Linked DNA regions of Homo sapiens: region 2 is linked to region 1. Evidence: fine-mapped expression QTL. A gene starts in region 1. The other region holds a variant in brackets. All regions are shown on one strand. Distances are from middle to middle. Region 1 holds the start of NR1D2 (nuclear receptor subfamily 1 group D member 2). Region 2 overlaps NR1D2 (nuclear receptor subfamily 1 group D member 2).

The links. PIP is the estimated chance that this variant, and not a neighbour inherited with it, causes the effect. A credible set is the group of variants that fine-mapping cannot tell apart.
Region 2: its variant is the best candidate, but not a certain one, in a credible set for the expression of NR1D2 in monocytes after LPS (Fairfax 2014, PIP 0.54).

Annotation. Positions count from the first base shown.
Region 1 is chr3:23,943,626-23,946,538 of GRCh38, forward strand. It overlaps NR1D2 (nuclear receptor subfamily 1 group D member 2), which reads left to right and starts at 1,661. Exons shown (of 8, transcript NM_005126.5): 1 at 1,661-1,969. The coding sequence starts at 1,954. It overlaps LOC124909354 (a long non-coding RNA gene), which reads right to left and starts at 1,555. Exons shown (of 2, transcript XR_007095845.1): 1 at 30-1,555. It also overlaps a transcript of NKIRAS1 not described here. RefSeq lists silencers at 1,525-2,714, 2,211-2,752.
Region 2 is chr3:23,972,372-23,975,284 of GRCh38, forward strand. All of the region lies in intron 7 of NR1D2 (nuclear receptor subfamily 1 group D member 2), which reads left to right. Among named protein-coding and RNA genes, the nearest start is that of NR1D2, 29 kb to the left of the region's middle. The variant A/G (reference allele first, on the strand shown) is at 1,278.

The DNA.
Region 1 (2,913 bases):
CTAGACTGTTCATATTAACCTCATTTTACCTGTGTAGAAGTAGATGGTAGTTGATACATGAAAAAGCAAGCAAGCTACAAAGCGTGGCCTGGGGAACTCTTCCATCAGCATCACATGAGGGTGATAAATTCCAGAAGTAGGGAAGAATAGAGGGCTACCGTGATTAGGGAACTGTGTTTAGAAGGGTTTGGGTATCAAGACAGCCTTGGAAAGAGAAGCAGGACCCACATCTGTGCAGGGCGAAGCAGGTCAGGTTAAGTCGTTGAATTTTTTCAAAGTGTAACACGAAGCCATTGGAGGGTTTTCAGCAGAGTAATCAGATCTTATTTACATTTTAAAAATAATACTTTGACTGCTGGGGAGAAGTGACTGTAGGAGGACCCAAGAAGCACTCTCCTAGTTAGGGAACCAGAGCAGTAGCTGAGGCAAGAGATAATGGTTTGCTCTAGCAATACCAACGGTGAGAAACAGGGATTGAACATATTTTGAAGGTAGAATAGCTCAGACTTGCTAATGGATTGAATGGAGAATAAAAGGCTGTGAGAGTGTTAGGAGAGAAACATAATTTTGCTGGCTTCAGGAACTTGCAGATTTACCAAAACAGTAAATATTGATATGGTGAAGAAACCTGGGGGGTGGGGAAATAGGGTGTTGCACATGTAAATATGTCTTCCACGTGACATTTTCCCCACCTTCTATAGTGAAGAATTTCAGAGCAAACTGGAAAGAGTTTTACAAGCAACACCCATATCCCCATCGCCTAAGTTTAACATCTTACCATATCATCTATTCATGCCTCTATCAGCCCATCTTACTTCAGTAATGCGTTTAAATTGCGGGCATCAATGCACTTTCCTCAGAATTCACCTCAGCACGCATACAATTTATGTCTAGCTTTTTTCTTTTGATCTAAAATTTACATTCAAGGTGAAACGCCCAGATCTTGACTGCACATTAGCTGAGTTCGGACACACGCGTACACCCGTCTAAAATCTGAGATGCAAAAAAGCGGCATAATCAAACGGGCTGCTGGATGTAGGAATCTGGAGATTAGAAGAGAGGTCTTGGCTTGAAATATAAATCTGGGAATCACAAGAACATAGGTCTACTTAAGCTATGAGATTGGATAAAATCACCTAGAGGGTGCAGAGGGAAAGGGAAGGGTCTGTGCCCTCAGAGACCAGCGTTTGGAGGTCGGTCGGGTGGGAGCGGGGGGTGGGGGTGGGGGGCGCAAGGGTTGAGCAAGCCCGAACCAGCCGGCCCAGCCGGGGTCCTGAGAATCACCCTTGCTCGGCGCCAAGCCACCGCTTTGACCTAAGAGCCACCAGGTTGGGGGGCAGGGCGTGGAGAGGACTCCCGGCCAGAGGCGGGAAAGGCAGCCGGGAGGAGAGGAAAGAGGAGGAGGAGGGGAGGAATATGCGGCGGAGGGAAACGGAGAAGAGGTTTACGGCACGGAGGGGAAAAACGAAGGAAGAGGAGGGGCTCGGCAAGGAGAAGGAAGGGGAGAAGGGGGAAGCGCAGGAGAAAAGGGTAGCCGGGGAGCCGGGAAGCGGGCGGGAGGGAGGGGAGCGGCGGGGCGGAGGTCGCCGCAGCGGCCGGCCGAGGGCGGGCGGAGGGAGGGGGTGTGTGCGCGGGTCACATGGTCGCGGCTGCCCTCCCCGTCAGCCGCCCTCGCCGCCGCGGTGCGCTGGCTGCAGGAAGCCGCCGCGCCGCCGCTTTTGTTGTCAGGGACCCAGCGAGGAGCGCCGCTCGCCGGCCGCCGCCACCCTCTCTCGCTGCAGCCTGCTGTGCGCTGCACGGCCTGGGGCCCGGGAGCCCCGCCCGCTCTGCCCATGAGGGGGCCCCGCGACCACCGCTGCTTCCAGCCCGGGGCGGCGCGGCGCTGAGGCGGCGGCGGCGGCGCTGCCCCCTCTGCGGGAAGCGGGCGGCCCCGGCCGCCTCCGCGAGGGCACCATGGAGGTGAATGCAGGTAAGAACCGGACTGCGGCGGGTGGGGGATGGCCGGAGGGAGCGCTCAGAGCCCGCGGGGCACTTTGGGGGGCGGCGGCAGGGGGTGTCCCCATGGCCGGTGGGGCGGGGTGGGCTGCTGCGCGCCGCGTGTCCGCCTCTGGCTCGGTTCCCATCGCCCCCCGGGCCGCCCGGCGCCCGCCCTCTTGTCTCCCTGCAAAGCCGCAGCGCGGCCTGCCGGCGCCCGGCCCGGCCCCCCCCTCACATGGCCCGGCCGCGCGAGCCACGTGCGCGCTGTGTTTACGTTCGGCGGCGCGCGGGCGCCGGTTGGCTGGGCGGGCGCGTGACGCGGCATTACATAATGGGCGCTGAGGCGGCGGCGGCGGGCGGGGACACGTGAGGCCGCTCGGCTCCCTGACCCACATTCCCCGGGGCCGCAGGGACACGTGGGGGCGGGGGCGCGCGCGCGCGCGCTGGCTGGGAGCGCCGCAGCCTCCCGGGAGGCTCCGCCCCTTTGGAAGCCTCGGGGCAGTGACGTCGCCGCGATTCCCTCCTCCCCCGCGGGGTTGCACACTGCGGAGGAGGCCGCGCGTGCGCGCCCGCTGAGCCCCCGCGGCGGGGCGTCCCCGAAGCGGGCGCTGACACCGCAGTGCACCGGACGCCGCACGCTCTTTTCGCGAGGTGACCCCAAGGCGCGGACCCCGCGCAAACCAAACGAACCGGCGCCTGGGGAGGCTGGTAGCTGCATACCTTGCAGATTCCGAGGAGGAAGTGCAGGACGAGGGCGTGCTGCAGGCCGGAGGAGGCGCCTCGGGGAAGGCGTGGGGCTTTCCCGAAGGGATACGCTCGAAGGAGCTCTGAGGTGCTTCGATCCCGAGCGACTCCCCGCAGACTGGGTAGCACCGCCCCTGTTAGGATGCCGTCTGTTTACAAAAAAAACCGTTTGCTCTAGGACGCGACCTGTCT
Region 2 (2,913 bases), 29 kb after region 1:
AGCTGCTAAGGGGGAGAAAAATCTCAAACATGATGTTTGCCTGTAAGATTGGAAGAATCCTAGTATCATGGAAGGGGAATTATACCTGGAAGGTAAGTTTCTTTTCAGGTTGTTTAAAGTAACAGCAGCCACTTCCAGTTGAAGATTAAGGACTTGCATGTAGGTGTGAGGTCAAGGCTCATTTACATACAGACTTCAGTTGTCTTCATAGAGATTTTTGTTGAAGGTTTGACTTTCATCCTGTAGGAAGTGAAAATAAATAGAATATTTGGTGAGGAGTACAAGCTTGGGAGTGCAATGAAGAACCAGCTAAGGAGAGAGAAGATAGAAGTGTCATAAATTAAACTCTGCAGTACTAGTGTAGCATTTAGTACACCATTTAGAAGATGAATTTCCACTTCAACATGTGTACTCTTAACATTATAGTCTCCAGAAGATTGTTTACCATCCAGCCAGGTTTGTACCTTAGGTTCTTTGGCCTTGAAATCTTAAAAACCATGGTTTTAGAAATGGAGGCTTTAGAAAAATTTAATACAATCTATGGTTTTAGATATAGGCATCCATTTCCCTGAAGTTCTGAGTTGTATAACGAAGCATAGGTCATCTAAACACAAAATAGCCACTGAAAGACCAACAACTTCAAACATTTTTAAATTTTTTGTGTGACTTCCTACACCTGTCCAACCAACTACTACTAATACTAGTTCCCACTCAGGTATCTTCCCAACTTATCAGTTGTTTCTTTCTTTGCCCACCTAGATTATTTTGTTTGTGGGGATTACTGTCATTCTTTCTCAGTTTTCGGTATTATAAATTACTAATCATATGATTGAAACCAGAGTCATGCGTCGCTTAATGACGTAAATATGTTCTGAGAAATGCATTGTTAGGCAATTTTGTCATTGTGTGAACATCATAGAGTGTACTTACATAAACCTAGATGGTATATCCTACTACACACCTGGGTTTTATGGTATAGCCTATTGTTACTAGGGTACAAACCTGTACACCATGTTACTGTGCTGAGTACTGCAGGCAGTTTGTAACACAATAAGTATTTGTGTATCTAAACATATCTAAACAAAGAAAAGGTACAGTAACAATAGATATGAAAGATAAAAGCTGGTATACTTGTGTAGGGCATTTACCATGAATGCAGCTTACAGGACTGGAAGTTGCTGTGGGTGAATGAGTGAGTGCATCGTGAGGGCATGTGAAGGCCTAGGATATTACTGTATATGACTGTAGACTTAATCACTGAACACGTACGGTACACT[A/G]AATTTATTAAAATTTTTTTTTCTTCCATAATAAATTAACCTTAGCTTGCTCTGTTTTACTTTATAAACTTAAATTTTTAAAAGCTTTTTGAGTCTTGTAGTAACACTTAGCTTAAAACAACACATTGTACAGCTATACAAAAATATTTTCTTTATATCCTTATTCTATAAGCTTTTTTCTATTTATAATTTATTTATTTACTTCTTAAACTTTATTGTTAAAAACTGTGACAGACACATACATTAGCTTAGGCCTACACAGGCTCATCATCATCAATATCACTGTCTTCCACCTCCACATTTTGTTCTACTGGAAGGTCTTCAGGAGCAGTAACATGCATGAGCTGTCATCATCTATCACCTTCTATATTTCTATGATAACAATGCATTCTTCAGGAATATCTCCTGAAGGACCTGCCTGAGGCTGCTTTACAGTTACCTTTTTTTTTTTTTTTTTTTTTTTTTTAAGTAGAAGGGACGGGCGAGGTGGCTCATGCCTGTAATCCCAGCACTTGGTGAGGCCCAGGCTGGTGGATCATTTGAGTTCAGGAGTTCTCAAAAAATGAAGTAGAAGGACTATACTGTAAAATAATGATAAAAAGTATAGTATAGTAAATACTTAAATCAGTAATATAGTTGTTTACTATTATTAAGTGTAATAGGTTTGCTTACCCCAGCATCACTATAAACGTGTTAGTTATGTGTTGTGCTATGATGTTACGACAACAAAAGCTGCAACGTCACTGGGCGATAGGAATTTTTCAGCAACATTATAATATTATGGGACCACCCTTTTATATGTGGTCTGCCATTAACTGAAACATTGTTACGTGGCACATGACTATTTTCCTCTGTCAGAATGTAAGCTCCTTAAAGGCATTCTTGTTTTGTTCACCGCTGATTTCCAAGCACCTTAGAACAGTAACCAGTACATATGTTTAATAAATGTTTGGCAAACGATTTCATCAAGTGAAATAGTGTTTTTTTTAAAAAAACCATTACTTGAATATCAAAGGCAAGAGGGACTCTTCAAATCATTACTGAAGGCTTTATTTTTATGAAGATAATTTATGATTGACCAAAGTTAAATGTCAAGAGAAAGAGGTCTCTGCCAGTAGTTTTGTCTGAAAAATTGTGACCCTCCCCCTACCCCCACAAACCAATATCCAATTTTTTTTTTTTTTTTTTGAGACAGGCTCCCACTCTGTCACCCAGGCTGGAGTGCAGGGGCATGATCTCGACTCACTGCAACCTCCATCCCCTGGGTTCAAGTGATTCTTGAGCCTCAGCCTTCCAAGTAGCTGGGATTACAGATGCCAATCACCATGCCCGGCTAAATTTTGTATTTTTAGTAGAGACGAGGTTTCACCATGTTGGCCAGGCTGGTTTCAAACTCCTGATCTCAGGTGATCTACCTGCCTTGGCCTCCCAAAGTGCTGAGATTACAGGAATGAGCCACCACGTCCTGCCCAACATTCTTTTTATTTTTTGAGACAGCATCTCGCTCTGTCACCCAGACTGGAGTGCAGTGGAATGATCGTGGGTCACTGCAGCCTTGACCTGGGTTTAAGTGATCCTCCCACCTTAGCCACCCAAGTAGCTGGGACTACTGGCATGTGTCACCATGCCCATTCAA